Linked DNA regions of Homo sapiens: region 1 is linked to region 2. The links come from fine-mapping of genetic effects on gene expression. A gene starts in region 2. The other region holds a variant in brackets. All regions are shown on one strand. Distances are from middle to middle. Region 1 holds the start of CDKN2B-AS1 (CDKN2B and CDKN2A antisense cis and trans regulatory RNA 1). Region 2 holds the start of CDKN2A (cyclin dependent kinase inhibitor 2A).

The links.
Region 1: its variant is fine-mapped to the expression of CDKN2A in esophagus muscle (GTEx, PIP 0.99).

The regions. Positions count from the first base shown.
Region 1 is chr9:21,990,526-21,999,655 of GRCh38, forward strand. CDKN2B-AS1 (CDKN2B and CDKN2A antisense cis and trans regulatory RNA 1) reads left to right here and starts at 4,266. Exons shown (of 19, transcript NR_003529.4): 1 at 4,266-4,636. LOC124902130 (a long non-coding RNA gene) reads right to left here and starts at 3,503. Exons shown (of 2, transcript XR_007061436.1): 1 at 3,361-3,503; 2 at 1-1,955. It also overlaps a transcript of CDKN2A not described here. RefSeq lists silencers at 3,940-4,199, 4,520-4,719. The variant T/G (reference allele first, on the strand shown) is at 4,520.
Region 2 is chr9:21,970,049-21,979,178 of GRCh38, forward strand. CDKN2A (cyclin dependent kinase inhibitor 2A) reads right to left here and starts at 4,809. Exons shown (of 3, transcript NM_000077.5): 1 at 4,630-4,809; 2 at 854-1,160. The coding sequence starts at 4,779. RefSeq lists silencers at 4,767-4,816, 5,037-5,136 and an enhancer at 5,317-5,366.

The DNA of each region.
Region 1 (9,130 bases), 20 kb after region 2:
CTCAAAAGTGAAACGAAGAAAATAAATATCACCAAACTTTTTCCCAACCCCTCTCATCCTGCGGAAACCATTATAACTAATTTGGTGAGAGAGAGAGAGAGAGAGAGAGAGAGAGAGAGAGAGAGAAACTGTTTACTGTTTGGAATCTTGCTTTAAAAAAACCTGACTTTATAATGCAATCATTTAACAGTCTATGAAATATTCTTCAGATACCTGATGATCCAGAATGTAACTGTACCATAATTTAACACTTTATTGCTAGAATTTTATGCAGTTTTTGATTTCTTGCTACTACTTATCCATCTGTATTAATCTTTGTCAGAACCTTTCTTTCCTTAGGATGATGCCTGAATATAAAATAGCTGAATGAAAGTGGATGGGTTCATTTTAAAATACAAAATTGTTTTTCTTGATGGTGAAGTGTTTAAGAGGTGGATTAATCTCATTGGGCAACAAATAGAGAAGATATTAGTAGTTAGGTATATGAGAATCAGAATTCAGATAATTTGTCTTAAAAATTCATATTCAATGTAAAAATTTTATATTTAGAAAATGAAACTGTACCCATTGTTTATATAACTTAAACTGCCAAAATAAAGCACCACAAAAACTTTTTATCACGTTGGTTTTTGTATCAGGCTGGGCTTTGCAGCAGATGGAGGAGCTAGGGCAAGCTTGTCCAACCTGTGGGCCCGAGGGTCACATGCAGCCCAGGATGGTTTTGAATGCTGCCCAACACAAATTCATACACTTTCTTAAAGTATCATGAGTTTTTTTTTTTTTTTAAGCTCATCAGCTATTGTTAGTGTTAGTGTATTTAATGTGTGTCCCAAGACAATTCTTCTTCTTCCTATGTGGCCCAGGGAAGGTAAAAGATTGAACACCCCTGGCCTACAGTGTTCTACTATGAAGTTTCAGTTTTAGTTCGGCCTAGAATGTTTTAGTACAGAAGGCAAGTGAGATTTTCTCTGTTTCTCCAAGGACTTTTGAAAAAGTGTAAAAGCACTGGGCCCACTGTTGAACCTTGCTATAAAAAAGTATTTTTGATACCATTTGTATCACTTTAGTAATAGGAGTTTTTCATATGTTGGGAAAATGGTTTAGCTTAACTCTATCATGGTAGTTGATAGTGATGAACTAACGTGGAATAATAGATCTGTAAACCATCATAGACGGTAATAGGCTATGTTGTTGCTACCTTAGGATCATAATGGACTTTCTAAAATTCAAGAGTACTCAAAGAAGTAAAATGAATATAAGTCTTGATTTCTGAAAGGGCTATGGTTCACTTGGAACACAATACAAACTGTGAATCATGTACACATGGGGAATAATGGTTTATACTAACTGCACAGTGCTTACCTTGAGAGGACTCTGTGCTATTAAAGAAAAAAATAACCTGAGCCTTCTGAAGTAGCTATAAACAAATGAATATTTAACTTCATAATAAAAATATGACTATTTTGTAAATGCACCAAGGTAGAAGTAACAAATCAACTATGGCAATTTTTCAGGTTTCTGTGGTTAAGAAACTGGTAACGTGGAATTTTAGTATATGTATTTCCAATCATATAAAAATAAAAAGTCATAATAAACATATTTGCAGAAACTTAAAAAAAGTTAAAATAACATCTTATTTGCAATGATATTAAATAATTCATACAAGTAATTTTTAGCACTTGTGCCTCTCAAGGAATTGTATGAATCCTAACATAATTAGTATCCATATATATTCCCAAATCAATATAGCCATGGGCATAAAATATATTAATGTGAAATATATAATTACATATCATTATAATTAACACCGCTAGATTTTATATTATGTATATCATTTTACATATGAAATTGGAAAATTGCATATATTTCAAGACATTCTATCCAAGCTGTGTTCTATCTTGAGAAACTTCCTGAAGATTGCGCTTTTCACATACGTCCTGAAAATTGATTTATACCTAAATAACAAAAAATGATCTATTTCAATGAACCTATCATTTAAATATTTTTGCATTTCATGCATATACATTAACATACTATAAAATATTTTCTCTAACTTAAAATCACCACAATGTTATGTTTTATAGGCCTAAACTAAAAAATACATAATTATGGCATTTATATACATTGACATGTTCTACTTTGTTACTACAGATTTTCAGAGGCAACTTAATAATTTAAACAAAATGATTTTATATAGAATAATATTAACTAGAGTAATAAATATTTTTATATAGACAATAATATTAAGAACTATATTCATACAGTTACCGGTCACAGTGGCTAAACTTTTGCTGATACGGATAAACCACTGTTAAAAAAAACAACAACCAGGGTCTTGTCAATGTTTCAAAATGAATTAAAATCAAATCCAGCAACAGGCCCTGAAATCCTTTATAAGCTCCTTTGACTAAATTAAAAAAATTAACTTGCATAATATGAAAAGTAAAAAATAAAATGTGCATTTATCCTATAGATTATAAATTTTTGCTAATAGAAATTGAGACACTAAATTAAACACTGATAGTTTTAACAGGTTTATATTTCCATGTCAAAGAGACAATTAACATTGCAGTAAAAAAATAATTACCCCTCCGCTGGCCTTTGCTTTTTGAAGCTATATATTCCTGGCGAAGCATACCACAAGGACGGTCATAAAAGTGAAGCCTCATTAAATTACTTTTAGACTTATTACACAAGTTTTAATTAGCATTGTACATATTTTAACTGTACATATATTCTTTCAGTTTTCCTGGTTATAGGAAATTACACTGGCTGTGTCAACATTTGTCAATGTGAGGACAAAACTACCTTGGATTCTGTTTTTCAAGAAGTAGGCCTCATTTTTAAACTGTGCTAACTGTCGTCTGAGATGACTAAAATACTATCAGTTGGGATTTCTCAGGAACAGTTCTACAGTTCTGTCGTTTGCTAAACATACGAGCATTGTCCCGAGCAGTTTCAATCACTCAGGCCGCCGGACCTCTACCTCTAACTCACAAAGAAAGCCCATTTCCCTGTTGGCTGCAAAACTCCCCCAAGAAGCAAGTGCTTGCTCCTCGCAGCAGTAACTGATCCTACGATCCTTGTTAGCATTTCAGGAAGTCGCTGCCTGCGTGCCCCGTATCTCACGGGTCCTCCACTCTCCTGGAAGGTGGGAGAGGGTGACCCCGCCGGGAGGCTGGGGAGAAAAAAGGCCGCCTCCAGAAAACTTAGATGGTTAGCAATAATTCTCCCCAAGGAGAAAGAAAGTGTGCTTGAAATACACCTTTCCTACTGTGTGTGTGTGTGTGTGTGTGTGTGTGTGTGTGTGTGTGTGTGTGTCTTAGTCATTCCCACCCAGGATATTCGGGACTCACTGACTTCTGAGGTGGGTTTAGAAGCTCTGTTCGCCTCAGTTTCCCACGATTGAGGGGCTGTGTGAAGGGAGGTCCAGGTTCAATGGTACTGCGAGAACCACATGTCTAAGTCGTTGTAACCCGAATGGGGAAGCCTCCACCGGCGGTTATCTCCTCCTCCTCCTAGCCTGGGCTAGAGACGAATTATCTGTTTACGAAATCACACCAAACAAAACAAGTGCCGAATGCGCCCCGGACTTTTCGAGGGCCTTTCCTACCTGGTCTTCTAGGAAGCGGCTGCTGCCCTAGACGCTGGCTCCTCAGTAGCATCAGCACGAGGGCCACAGCGGCGGGCGCCCCTGGCGCTGCCCACTCCCCCGTGAGCCGCGGGATGTGAACCACGAAAACCCTCACTCGCGGCGGGCCGCACGCGCGCCGAATCCGGAGGGTCACCAAGAACCTGCGCACCATGTTCTCGCCGCCTCCAGGGCCGAGCTCGGCAGCCGCTGCGCCGCCCTTTGGCACCAGAGGTGAGCAGCGCCACTCCTGCCCCCTTAACTGCAGACTGGGACCCACGCACCGCCCCCTGCCCATCTCCGCCCCGCAGGCGCGCACCCGCCTTCCCTGAGCGCGCCCGCCCCCCACCTTCACCCCCACCCCCACCCCACCCCCACTCCCACCCGGACCTCCAAGATCTCGGAACGGCTCTGAGCCCTGCGCACGCGGGAAGGGCTGCCGGAGGCGCCCGTAGGGAGGCGCGCGCGCGGGCGGCTCAGGGCCCGCGTTCCTCTCCCTCCCGCCTACCGCCACTTTCCCGCCCTGTGTGCGCCCCCACCCCCACCACCATCTTCCCACCCTCAGCGCGGGCGCCCCGCGGTGACGGCCCAGGGGCCGGACGCCTGGAACGCAACTCCAGGCAGCTCGCCCCCTAGCTACATCCGTCACCTGACACGGCCCTACCAGGAACAGCCGCGCTCCCGCGGATTCTGGTGCTGCTCGCGTCCCCGCTCCCCTATTCCCCTTATTTTATTCCTGGCTCCCCTCGTCGAAAGTCTTCCATTCTTCAAACTAGATTATTTAAAAATGAAAAAGGAAGAAAGGAAAGCGAGGTCATCTCATTGCTCTATCCGCCAATCAGGAGGCTGAATGTCAGTTTTGAACTAAAAGCCGCTCCGCTCCTCTTC[T/G]AGATTTGGAAAACAAGCGAAATTAAACTAAACCGCTGCACGCCTCTGACGCGACATCTGGACACGGCGCGGCGCTGGCGCTGCCGGAGCTGTCGACCCGGCCTGGCGCCGGACTAGGTAGGTGGAGTCGCACCCGGGGGTCCCAGCTGGGTCCGGGCGCCCATTCCCCTCCCAGCTGCCCGCGTCGCCGAGGGCGCCTGGCTGGGACAAGCACCGAGTCCTTTGTGTCTAGCCCATTTTTATTTTCGGTTTTAACCTTCACGACAGCCGCGGAGCATCTGAGCGCTTCTTCCTCTTTCCTCTTCCCCCGCGCTCCCCTCCCCTGCTGGCCGCTCCCCTCCTGTCGCCGCGTCCTCGCGTAGAATGGTTGTCTTGGCGACCGTTGGCCGCTGCCGCCTCCACGCTCTGCCCCGCGCCCAGACACCCCGACTCCCCTTGATCCCGCCGCCTGACTCCTCGGCGTACGTTCTCTCTCCGGTCTCCCCCTCCATGTCCCCTCCTCCCCTTTTCTTCCACATCACCGATCCTTTCTGGACTCTCTCCCTTCCTCCTTTCCAGCTGGGAGACAGGAAAAGCGGTCCTGTTTGGGAACAGTAAAAGCAGGGCAAGGAAAGGAAGGAGCGGCAGAAAGGAGGGGTGAGTCGAGGACACAGGGGCAGCCGGAGAATGCGGAGGAGCCGGGTCCTGAGCGCGGTCTAAGCGAGGCTCGGCTCTCGTCCAGGAACTCGGACGCGGGCTCGCCGGCTCTCCGCGCGCGGGAAGTCGAGCCCAGGACGCCGCCTTCAGGCCGGCGCGCTGACCCGGTGCCCCGACCCGGAGCCTGCGGTCTGCCTGGATCCGTCCTAAACCTCGCGGGCTGGACCCGCGGCCTGAGTGGGTGGGTGTGTGCCAGAGGATTCGGGACTAGGCCCAGCTCCGGGAACCTGGAAATGTGGCCCGCTTCTCAGTGGCTTCCTGTTCATGCGCTTGGGCCTAGTGGCCTAGTTGAAGAAGTGGAACCACAGCGTGAGCCGACAGGGCCTTACAGATCAGACGTCAAGCCCCCCAGACCTTACAGGGGAGGAAAGTGAGGCCTGCACTGGCCGAGCCACCCACTTAAGGCGGTGCGGTAGCCTAGAGGAGCGGCAGACTTCTCTTTCCCCATCCCCCGCCCCATCACTTGACGTTGCTGCCGGACCTCGGTACAAACCCAAGACAAAACGGGGCCCTTTGGAAAAAGTGAGATTTAGCGATCACTCTTACGTAGCCACTCTAAATATCTATCTAGATATTTACAAATGCACCTCCCCGGTAGGTAGATTTCACTCAGAATTTACCCAACACCGTGCTTTGTGCTGGGGCCACATGCCACCTTTCTGTCTAGTATGGCTGCTCTTTCTCCCTCTTCGCAAATATAGCTCTTTTTCCTTCAGGTCTCTTCTGAAGTAAGTAGCCCTTCCTCAGAAATGCTTCCCTTTTCAGGCACCCTCATACCACCGTGATTTTTTTCTTTATAGCACTTAGGACGAAGAGATTATTTTACTTATGTACTTGTTTACTTGTTTGTTGTGTAGAATGTCAGCTCTATGGGAACCAGATCCTTTTATGGGTCTTCCTCTGCACCTATGCCACGCCCCCAGCATTCCCCTCCTACCACCACCTTCAGCCGGCCTCCGCCTCTGTAGGGGGGCATTAGGTTTTCTGTCCCACAGAGGAAGGGCGCTTTAGAAAGGGTTAGTTCATCCTGGAAGAAAAACGATGTCGGATGCCAGCATAGTGTCATTTAAAGATACTGGAGGAATGGAGTGGGAGCGGTGAGGGTTTCTTGGGCCTAGACAATGTAACTAGTTGTTGCAATAAAGCATGGTGGGGAAAGGAGAAAAGGCACGTATTAAACATCTTTTGAAGTCGCTATCTATATCAGTCAGTTCTCCAGGGAAACAGAACCCATTGTGTGTGTGTGCGTGCCAGTACCACACATATGTATATGTATATACACACCGTCATGGGGTTGCTTAACAACAGGGATACATTCTCAGACATGTATCTTTAGGCGATTTCATTGTTGTGCAAACATCATATACAAACCTAGGTGGTATAGTCTATTATACATCTAGGCTGTATGGTATGGGCTATTGCTCCTAGGCTGCAAACCTTTACAACATGTTACTATACTGAATACTGTAGATAATTGTAACAAAATGTAGTTTTATATCTAAACACATCTAAACATAGAAAAGGTAGTATGTTGTGCTACAACTTTAGGACAGCTATGACATCACTAGGGGATAGGAATTTTTCACATCCATTATAATCTTATGGGACACCACCAATATGTGACTGTGGTTGACTGAAGCATCGTTATCCAGCACATGACTCTGTGTGTGTATACAATTTTATATATACGTACATTATATGTCTACACACACATATGTGGGGGAGAGAAAGAGAGGGAGGGAGAGAGAGAGAGAGAGAGAGAGAAAGAGAAAGAGAGAAAATACTTATTTTAAGGAATTGTCTCAGAAAATGGTGGGGGTTGACAAATTGGAGACCCAGGGAAGAGTTGTTGTTGCAAGACTTGAATCCAAAGGCAATCTGGAAGCAGAATTTCTTCTTCCTTGAGGGACCTCAGTCATTTCTCTTAAGCTCTTCAACTGCTTGGATGAGGACCACCCATATTATTGAGGATAATCTGCTTTTTCAAGTCTACTGACTTAAATGTTAATCATATCTAAAAAATACCTCCACAGCAATATTTAGACTGGTGTTTGACTCAAACACTGGGTACCACAGCCTAGCCAAGTTGACATACCAAATTAACTGTCACATTATCCCGTCATGCCTGAGGGGTTCTCTGACCCTCAGTTTTCTGAGGATCAAATTTAAATTGAGGGATCTATCTTTGTTTATTGGAGCCATATAGCTCAAAGTATAATCATTTTCTCTCCACAGGAACTAGACCTAGGGATAAGGGTAATTGCTTATTTCAGAGGAATGCCATCTGAATAAAAGGATAATTATATAGTAAGCTCTCTGTTCAAAAAATGTAAATATTAAAGTTTGAACATCTAAATTCCATCTTGGTTTCCCCCACTGCCGCTGCCCAATACCTGTTCTCTTTCAGTTGCAGTATGCAGGGGAATTCTAAGTTTAATATTAGTCTCAGCAAAATACAATGGTGAAGATGACTCTTTCTAGCATAACAATGGGTATGTGGTATTCCAAATACTTTTGGAATGCGGAGTGACTATTGGCTATGTGCTCTTCAAAAAATTAATAATGAAGAACTGAGCATGTAATTTCACTTATATTACTTATTTTATCCTCACAGTGGCCTTTCAAAATTGGGATTATTACTCCTGTTTTACAGGTGGAAAGAATGAGGCCTAGAAAGGCTCAAATCTTGAACACTTCATGGCCAGCAAGAGCCAGGGCTGGAATCATCAGGCAGGCCTTTGGGTTACAAGCCTTGTGCCTTTTCTGTTGTCCCAAAGGCCAGGGTCAATAGGGAGTGAGTTATCTGTGGGTCACTTATGCAGACAGAATCACTGAATATTGGAAGTTTTTGGGGTTCTCTTCCACTGGCCTAAAAACCTGAGTTAATTGAGTTTTTTTTAACAGGGGTAAATAATTTTCTGTTTTAGATCAGCAAATTCATTCCATAGGCAGGGATAGGGGAGAAAAATCTTACTGAATATCCCTTGTCTTGTTCTCCTCCTCCCCAAACTTAATGTCCTATGACACTAGCTTTATCCCTTAGGTAACTCTTGATTATCCAAATTTCATGAGAAACTTTCCTAACATTGCACATGCTCAAACTCAAAACCCCAAAGTCATAAGAAAAAAGATAACATAAGCAAGAATAAAAAACAATTATTTGATCATATATGTCAAAAGATTAATTACTAGACTATATAAATAAATACATAATCCAGTAAAACAACAATCCAATAAAAAAGGCAAAGGATATAATAGTTTATAGTAGAATATGTGCAAATAGTAAAAAATAAAAAGATAATCTTACTCATTAATAAATGTAAACAGAAACAATGGCATATAACCACAAGTGTGGCAAAAAGAAAAAAGACTACTTTGACAAAGTTGTCAGGAAACAATCACTCTTACTATTACAACTTGGTGTAATTGTTTTGAAAGGCAGCATTACAATATCTAGTCAAAACTGTATGAGAATATAGGTACCCTTTGACTCAGCTATTCCACTATTTTAAGTATGTAAAGACACACACAAATAATGTATGGAAATATATATACACATATATACTATATAGTATATATAGTTCATATGTATGTTATATGTTTGTGTATATATCTATATACTTATATACACCCTTTGACTCAGCAATTCTATTCCTATAACTCATGTATGTAACATATATAATACATATCTTTATATACACATATGTACACACATATCTGTAAGTATGGGAAGATGTATACACATGTACACATATATATACATACATATGTATATATGTATTTTATGTATGGATACATATGTATATATGGATAGATTTTACACCTACAGACACATTTAGATATGTAACTTCAGCTAAAGCAATTCACTCCTATATAAATTGCTACAGATAACTTGTATAAGTATGCAGAAATGTT
Region 2 (9,130 bases):
GTACTGTTTCATATATCTATTTTGTTTCAAAAAAAAATGTTCCTCCCCCCAGAAACAATTGAGTAATGTTGGCAGTTTCAGCAGACAGCTGTGGGAGTAGGGAACTGGGGCCATGGAATGGGGGCGGAGGGAGGATGCTTTGAGATCACAAAAAGGAAAGGCAAGGGCAAGGAGGACCATAATTCTACCTTCATCGCTCAGCGATCTCTTGCACAAGTTTAAGAGGGAAAGGAGCCAACTCCGGTGCACAGACTGCCAGGGTCAGCGAAGTCTTGGTCCTGATGTCCCCAGAACCCCCTGGGGCAGCTCTGGAAAACTCTACCGCATAAAGCGGAGGGTCAGATTAGCTGAGGAGGGTCAGATTAGTTGAGTTGTGCAGAAGAGCCGAGATCGAGAGATCTCCAGATGATGCCACGCACAATTGGGTTTGGAAATCCTGAGGTTGGTCCAGCCAGCTTGGTATGCAAATGAGGAAACAGACCTGGTAAGTGGATGCAACTGGCCCTAGTTTGGAGGAAGAGGGGGCACTAGACCTCTAGCCTCTTGAGTCTTCATTGCTCCGCAGTCTAGGCCTTGAACTAGCAGAGGGTAGGTGTTTGGGTGGTGGTATGCTTTGGGAAGTATAATGTACAAAATGGGCTTTCACGTGCGCAAGTCCATTTCGGGATTATTTCCCATTTGCCGCCCTGGCGGGGCAGGGCGATAGGGAGACTCAGGCCGTCCCACCGATTGGCGCGTGAGCTGAGGCAAGACCGGAGACTGGTCTCCCGGGCTGAACTTTCTGTGCTGGAAAATGAATGCTCTGAGCTTTGGAAGCTCTCAGGGTACAAATTCTCAGATCATCAGTCCTCACCTGAGGGACCTTCCGCGGCATCTATGCGGGCATGGTTACTGCCTCTGGTGCCCCCCGCAGCCGCGCGCAGGTACCGTGCGACATCGCGATGGCCCAGCTCCTCAGCCAGGTCCACGGGCAGACGGCCCCAGGCATCGCGCACGTCCAGCCGCGCCCCGGCCCGGTGCAGCACCACCAGCGTGTCCAGGAAGCCCTCCCGGGCAGCGTCGTGCACGGGTCGGGTGAGAGTGGCGGGGTCGGCGCAGTTGGGCTCCGCGCCGTGGAGCAGCAGCAGCTCCGCCACTCGGGCGCTGCCCATCATCATGACCTGCCAGAGAGAACAGAATGGTCAGAGCCAGGGTGGGGGCCGGCATGACGGAAAGGAAGCTTGTGTAGAGCCCCCTCACCGCCAAGCAGACCCCCACACAAGCCCCAGGTGTCTAATTACCCCTACATTTGCTTCCAGTTTCCAATTTCCTTCTTGAGTTCTCTATCCATTCTTCAGTACACAATGAATTCCATTATATCCTCCGAACTTCTGCGGAGCTGTCGTCACAGGCAGAGAGCACTGTGAGGCACGGGCAAAATAGCAAAGGGGCAGGGACAGACTGACTTTTACTCCAGGCTAACTTCCTGTATTTCCCCTGAGATACAACTACTGAAATTTCTTCCTGAAATTATGTTAGGCCTGGAGATTTTTTTTTTTTTTTTTGTTCACTGCTGTATATCCAAGCGCAGAATGTGGTAATTGTTAAAAAGAGAAAACTTGTTTGTTTGTTAAAACAAATTCTCACAAAACTTTTAAGTTACACTTAGCTTCTGGGAATGTTGAACTTCAATTTCTTTTTCATTATATTAGTTTTAAAATTATATATTGGGATAGTACAGTTGTATATATTTATGTGGTACAATATGAAGTTATGATCTTTGAACACAATGGGGAATTATTAAGTCAAGCTAAGTAACCTATCCATCATCTCAAATATTTGACATTTTTGTCAAATGAGAGCATTTGGGATTTACTATTTAGCTATATTCATCATGCTATGAAACACATCTCAAAAAAAACAATCAAACTTATTCCTCCCATCTTAACTGAGGCTTTATATCTTGATTACCATCTCCCCATTCCTCCCACCCCCCAGCTCTAGTAACCACCATTCTACTCTTTACTGCTAAGAATGTAATTGTTTTATATTTCACAGATAAGTGAGAACATGTGATATTTGTCTTTCTGTGTTTGGCTTATTTCATTTAGCATAATGCTCTCCAATTCCAAAACTTCAATTTCTTCAAGTATAAAATAAGAAGGCTAGTTTAATTAACCCTAAAATTCCTTCCTGTGGTAGGCTGAATAATGCCCCCCCACCCCCAATGTCTATGTCCTAATCCTCAAAAACTTTTAATACATTAACTTATGTGGCAAAAGAGGCTTTGCAGATGTGATTTAATTAATGGTCTTGAGGGAGATTATCCAGAATTTTCAGGGTGGGCCCAACATAACCCCAAGTGTTTTTATTAGAGGGTCACAGTCAGAGAGAAGATACAAGAATGGAAGCACAGGCCACAGAGAAAATACAGAGACCATGAGCCAAGGAATTTGATGGTCACTAGAAGCTGGAAAAGACAAGGAAACAGATTGCCCCTTAGAGTTTCCAAAAGGAATGAAACCTTGTGGACCCATTTTTGACTTCTGATCTCTAGAACTGTAAAATAATAATTTTGTGTTTGTTTTAGCTAACACATTTGTGATAATTTGTAACAGCAGCAGTAGGAAACTAAAACACTTCCCAGGTTTATGATTTGAGAGTTCATTAAACAAGAGATGGTCACCTCTTTGGTTCCTAAATCATCTTGGAAACAAAGCCATTTCCAGAGAGGAATTTTAAAATACTGTCTGCAGTCATAGCAACCTTAAAATTTGAGTGCTGCATGGTGGAAGTAGACAATTTATTTTAGGATAACTGTTATTTGTTATATTAGTTTGAGGATGGTGGTGTTAAAGAGGAGTTACTTATTTTTAGGTACATTTCATACTAAACACAAATTGCATAATTTGCCTAAATCAAGGAATTATACTAAATTATATTATGGTTATTAAATCCTGTCCTGAGAAAGTGAAACTGACTCAGTTTTCAAAGAGACAAAGAGAAAGTATAAGCAAACCAAATTGCAGCTACAAAAAGAAAGACAAAATGTTGCAGTATATTTATTGTTTTGTGTATTCAATGAAGTCCTTCGTCTTGGTCATAAAACTAGCCTTAAAGGTTTTTCTTATATTTCATAGTATGAAAAATCTAAAAAGTAACCCATATGTAAATATTTAAATCATGATAGAAATCCAAAGCAAAAAGAAAATGAATCAATTGAATTAAAATGTGTAGGATGCTTAAACCCATTTGATAATATATCCATTTGATAATATACTAATATGAATTTAGTACTTTAAAATGTTATATAAATAAATGTTCCTATATTAAACACCAATGTAGTTAGGATTCTAAGCCAACATCATTTCCCCTTTTCTACATGTTCTTCTCCCGTCTCCATTAAAAATTGTCAAAACTATCCACTTTTCTTTTTCCTTTTTGTTTTTAAACAAATAAGGTCTCTTCTAAGATATTGTAGGACTACAAAGCCAAACTCCCGGGTTCAAGCTGTTGGCAAAATTTTAGAGATGCTAAGTTACCCATGTATTAATTACTTTTAAATCCTCCCCTAACTCCCTCACAAAACAGGAGTAGGGAGAGGAGAAACACCTCTGTTCAAAAATGAGGAATTGAAAACTCTTATCACAAATAAACTATATCAAGTAAGCTAAAGATAGTAAAAGAGCAAAAATGTTAGCAGATATTCCCAAAATGGTAACTACATATTACCTCTGGAATGATCACATGAATGTGGCTCATTATTTCCTAAGTTCCTACAGCAAACATATATTTATTTGCCCTACTCAGTTAAAAATAAACACAATATGTAGTTGCTTCTGAATAATTTTTCTCTCTCTCTTTCTCTCTTTCTTTCTTTCGACAAAGTCTCACTCTGTCACCCAGGCTGGAGTGAAGTGGCTCCATCTCGCTGTTCACTACAACCTCAGCCTCCCGGGTTCAAGCGATTCTCCTGCCTCAACCTCCCGAGTAGCTGGGATTACAGGCGCCTGCCACCACCCCCGGCTACTTTTTGTATTTTTAGTAGAGGCGAGGTTTCACCTGTTGGCCAGGCTGGTCTCGAACTCCCGACCTCAGGTGATTCCCCCCGCCTTGATCTCCCAAAGTGAAGGGATTACAAGGCGTGAGGCACCGCGCCCGGCCGCTTCTGAATAATTTCGATCAAAATTTATATTCGATATTTATTCCAACATACACCACAGATTTCCACTGATAATCCCTCCTAGTAAGAAAGATAAGCTCCATCCAGGTATCTGTGAATTGGAGGCTAAGTAGTCCCAGCACATCTTACATTTCTTTAAGACTCCCTTTTTATCCCAAACGTTCGTAAATTTTGTATCTGATAAAGAGCATACTTCCATCTAATACAAATATGTTCCCCCCTTCAGATCTTCTCAGCATTCGAGAGATCTGTACGCGCGTGGCTCCTCATTCCTCTTCCTTGGCTTCCCAAGCCCCCAGGGCGTCGCCAGGAGGAGGTCTGTGATTACAAACCCCTTCTGAAAACTCCCCAGGAAGCCTCCCCTTTTTCCGGAGAATCGAAGCGCTACCTGATTCCAATTCCCCTGCAAACTTCGTCCTCCAGAGTCGCCCGCCATCCCCTGCTCCCGCTGCAGACCCTCTACCCACCTGGATCGGCCTCCGACCGTAACTATTCGGTGCGTTGGGCAGCGCCCCCGCCTCCAGCAGCGCCCGCACCTCCTCTACCCGACCCCGGGCCGCGGCCGTGGCCAGCCAGTCAGCCGAAGGCTCCATGCTGCTCCCCGCCGCCGGCTCCATGCTGCTCCCCGCCGCCCGCTGCCTGCTCTCCCCCTCTCCGCAGCCGCCGAGCGCACGCGGTCCGCCCCACCCTCTGGTGACCAGCCAGCCCCTCCTCTTTCTTCCTCCGGTGCTGGCGGAAGAGCCCCCTCCGACCCTGTCCCTCAAATCCTCTGGAGGGACCGCGGTATCTTTCCAGGCAAGGGGACGCCGTGAGCGAGTGCTCGGAGGAGGTGCTATTAACTCCGAGCACTTAGCGAATGTGGCACCCCTGAAGTCGCCCCAGGTTGGGTCTCCCCCGGGGGCACCAGCCGGAAGCAGCCCTCGCCAGAGCCAGCGTTGGCAAGGAAGGAGGACTGGGCTCCTCCCCACCTGCCCCCCACACCGCCCTCCGGCCTCCCTGCTCCCAGCCGCGCTCCCCCGCCTGCCAGCAAAGGCGTGTTTGAGTGCGTTCACTCTGTTAAAAAGAAATCCGCCCCCGCCCCGTTTCCTTCCTCCGCGATACAACCTTCCTAACTGCCAAATTGAATCGGGGTGTTTGGTGTCATAGGGAAAGTATGGCTTCTTCTTTTAATCATAAGAAAAAGCAAAACTATTCTTTCCTAGTTGTGAGAGCCCCACCGAGAATCGAAATCACCTGTACGACTAGAAAGTGTCCCCCTACCCCCTCAACCCTTGATTTTCAGGAGCGCGGGGTTCACTAAGTCAGAAACCCTAGTTCAAAGGATTCCTTTTGGAGAGTCGGACTGCTCTCTCCTTCCCCTCCCCTTCCCCTCCTGCGTGTAAAACGGCTGTCTGGGGCAAGGGTTTCTCAGACGTGTACATTGCCTGGTATAAGAGCAGACTCTGAAAAGATGAGGTTTATTTAATACGGACGGGGGAGAATTCTGCCTGTAGGCAGATAGGAAAATGGGGAGGGAGTCATTGGAAGGACGGACTCCATTCTCAAAGTCATAATTCCTAGACCAGAAAAAGTGCTCAGTGTTCTAGAAGCAGAGTTGCACAGTGATCCAAAGACCAGCTTCAAATACTGTCCTGTCTCCTTCACACTTCTCACATTTCTCTTTCCTACTGAAAATACCTTGCATTTTTCGTAATTATAAAGGGGGAAGGGAATATGAGTGCCCCCTGCTTTATAGGGGTTGTTGTGAGTTTAAATGATGTATTAATACATATAAGCCTTAAGAACAGTGCCACACATCCTAAGCTAATACCTGTTAGCTCTTGAATTATCCGCTTTGAGGACTGGCTTGCAATCTTGTTTTGAGGCATAGAAAGAAAATGCTTTGGAGCAGGACGCGGTGGCTCACACCTGTAATCCCAGCACTTTGGGAAGCCGAGGCGGGCAGATCACCTGAGGTCAGGAGTTCGAGGCCAGCTTGGCCAAAATGGTGACACCCCGTCTCTACTAAAAATACAAAAATTAGCTGGCCATGGTGGCGCACGTGTGTAATTCCAGCTACTCAGGAGGCTGAGGCAGGAGAATCGCTTGAACCCGGGAGGCAGAGGTTGCAGTAAGCCGAGATCGCGCCACCACCCTCCAGCCTGGGTGACAGAATGAGACTCCGACTCAAAAAAAAAAAAAAAAATGCTTTGGATAGAATTATCACTATTACATAAAAGGAAAGTCCGGATGCGGTGGCTCACGTCTATAATCCCAGCATTCTGGGAGGCCGAGACAGGCGGATCACCTGAGGCCAGGAGTTCGAGACAAGCCTGACCAACATGGCGAAACCCTGTCTCTACTAAAAAATACAAAATTAGCGGGGCTTGGTGGCGCATGCCTGTAATCCCAGCTACTCGGAGGCTGATGTAGGAGAATCGCTTGAACCCAGGAGAAGGCGGAGGTTGCAGTGAGCCGAGATCGCGCCATTGCACTCCAGCCTGGGAGACAAGAGCGAAACTTGGTCTCAAGAAAAAAAGAAAGAAAGAAAGAAAGAAAGACCAAGAAGAACTTACTCCCTGAAAAGATTATGGGCACCCTCCACCACCCTCACTTACAAAGAAAAGTTAAACAGCACTAAAGAGTATAACAAGCGCAAGGAGGTAAAAGTTCTAATTTTTCCTGTGACTACTACTTTTTAAGCTTATCAAAAACATGTACTACGTTTTAAAAAATGGATTGCTCAGACTTTGCTGATGCCTTAAGCACATGCTTAATCTGCCTACTGGATAATCCAGCTCTGTTTAAAAGTTATATTTCAATCCCTGGTTGACTTAAACCTTGTAGACCCAGTATATCTTGTACTTTTAGTGTCTGCTTGATTTTAAAACATGTAGTTTTTAAAATGAAGCCAATGAAAACAATTTGGGATGTCAAGTATGTTATTAAAATCTACAATGCATTACTGTACCATTTATATTTTCCTCGGGGTACCTCTCAATTAGCTGTGTAGCAATGATAGGGAAAATTCAAACTATCGATAAATAAAATTATTTTAGTTTAGTTTAAGATATTTTATGATGGAGGAGGAAGAAAGTGGTTGCCAGGATGGGAGGGAGGGAACACATTTCCATCACTAATACAATGGTTCTTTCTTTTTGTTTGTTTGTTTTGTGTGTTTTTTTGAGATGGAGTTTCGCTCTGTTGCCCAGGCTGGAGTGAAATGGCACCGCACGATCTCTCTCGGTTCACTGCAACCTCCGCCTCCCGGGTTCGAGCAATTCTCCTGCCTCAGCCTCCCGAGTAGCTGGGATTACAGGCACATGCTGCCATACCCAGCTAATTTTTGTATTATTAGTAGAGACGGGGTTTCACTATGTTGGCTAGGCTTGTCTCGAACTCCTGACCTCAGGTGATCCACCCACCTTAGCCTCCCAAAGTGCTGGGATTACAGGCATGAGCCATCGTGCCCGGCCTACAGTGGTTCTTAATGGGGGTGGGAGAGTGGGAAGAGTAGGCTCCTTCAAGAGTCTGTTGAAATAAATACCTTCTTCTCAAAAAAGAAAGTAGGTAATGATTTTTTTTAAAAAAGATGTGTTCACTTGCACATGTATTTCTAGATAAAACTTTCAGTGAATTCAGGGATTTCTCTGAAACTCTACCATGGATTCCTACATCAAGAACTCTTTCAGCTCTTGTGAAAAATATATATAGCTATTGGTGAAGAAGATGGGAGATGCAACCATATAAAAACAACATTTGGATGCATTATAAACAGGTGTAAAAGTTGACTGCTTTGGAAATACCAAGAACAAGTTTTAGATATGTATATCTCATATCTTGCAGTAGAGCTCTGGAAGGATTATGGCATCCTTGGGTGGGGCCATTTTGCTCTAGAAATTGAAGTCCATTATCCATTATAAATCTTATGTAGGGGGGAGGGGGGAGGGATAGCATTAGGAGATATACCTAATGCTAAATGATGAGTTGATGGGTGCAGCACACCAACATGGCACATGTATACATATGTAACAAACCTGCACATTGTGCACATGTACTCTAAAACTTAAAGTATAAATAATAATAAAATTAAAAAAATATTATGTAAATAATTAATAATAGTGGGAAAACTTTCCTAGTTTTTCTGTTAAAGAGCCCATTATACTCCCAGTTTACTCATACATATCGACCTGAGGTGCAAAATCCTAGAAGAATGAAAATATAAAGTCCTGGATCTCTGTGCTCCTTATGCCAGTCTCAGATTTCCTATGTGCAAAATGGGATTATAATATATTTCATGTGGCCATAAAATATGATAATGTATGTCCAAAAGCTTTTAATGTAAAAATTTACTACATTTACTAAATTTACTAAAGTTTGTTGGTTATTGTTATTATTATTCTCACACTTACTTTTCCTCTTTCCTGAGAATGCCATTCTTTTTTTAGATTTGCACTGCCTTTGCAGTTTTGAAAATTCTACACGTGAAATTTAAACCTGTCTTAATTCTGATCAGTCTTATAACAAAAAAAGACTACCACCTGTTCATTCATTCAACAAGCTCAGAAACTAAGGGCAGACATGGGGTGGGGGCAGAGGGGAGTAGGTCAAACATAGTATCTCTACAGTCAGACTGCCAGGGTTCAAACCTCAACTGTTCCACTTATTGGTTCTTTAACTTTTATCAAAGTTACTCAACATGTCTGGGCCTCTGTTTTCTCATTTGCATGATTAGGATAATAACTGTACTTGCCTCAAACAGTTGTTTAGGGATTAAATGAAGCATGTAACGCTCTTAGAAGAGCAAAATAAAGCACAGAATGATACAAGAAAATGAAAAGGTGACCAAACTCATTCTCATTTGTCTCTAGTAGGCAAAGGCTTCCGGATGCTGAGAGCTGATCCCAGTCTTGAAGAATGATGTGAGAGTTTAAAGATGGAAAAGAAGGAGAAAGATATTCTAGGCAGAGGTAAGAGGATGTGCAAAGG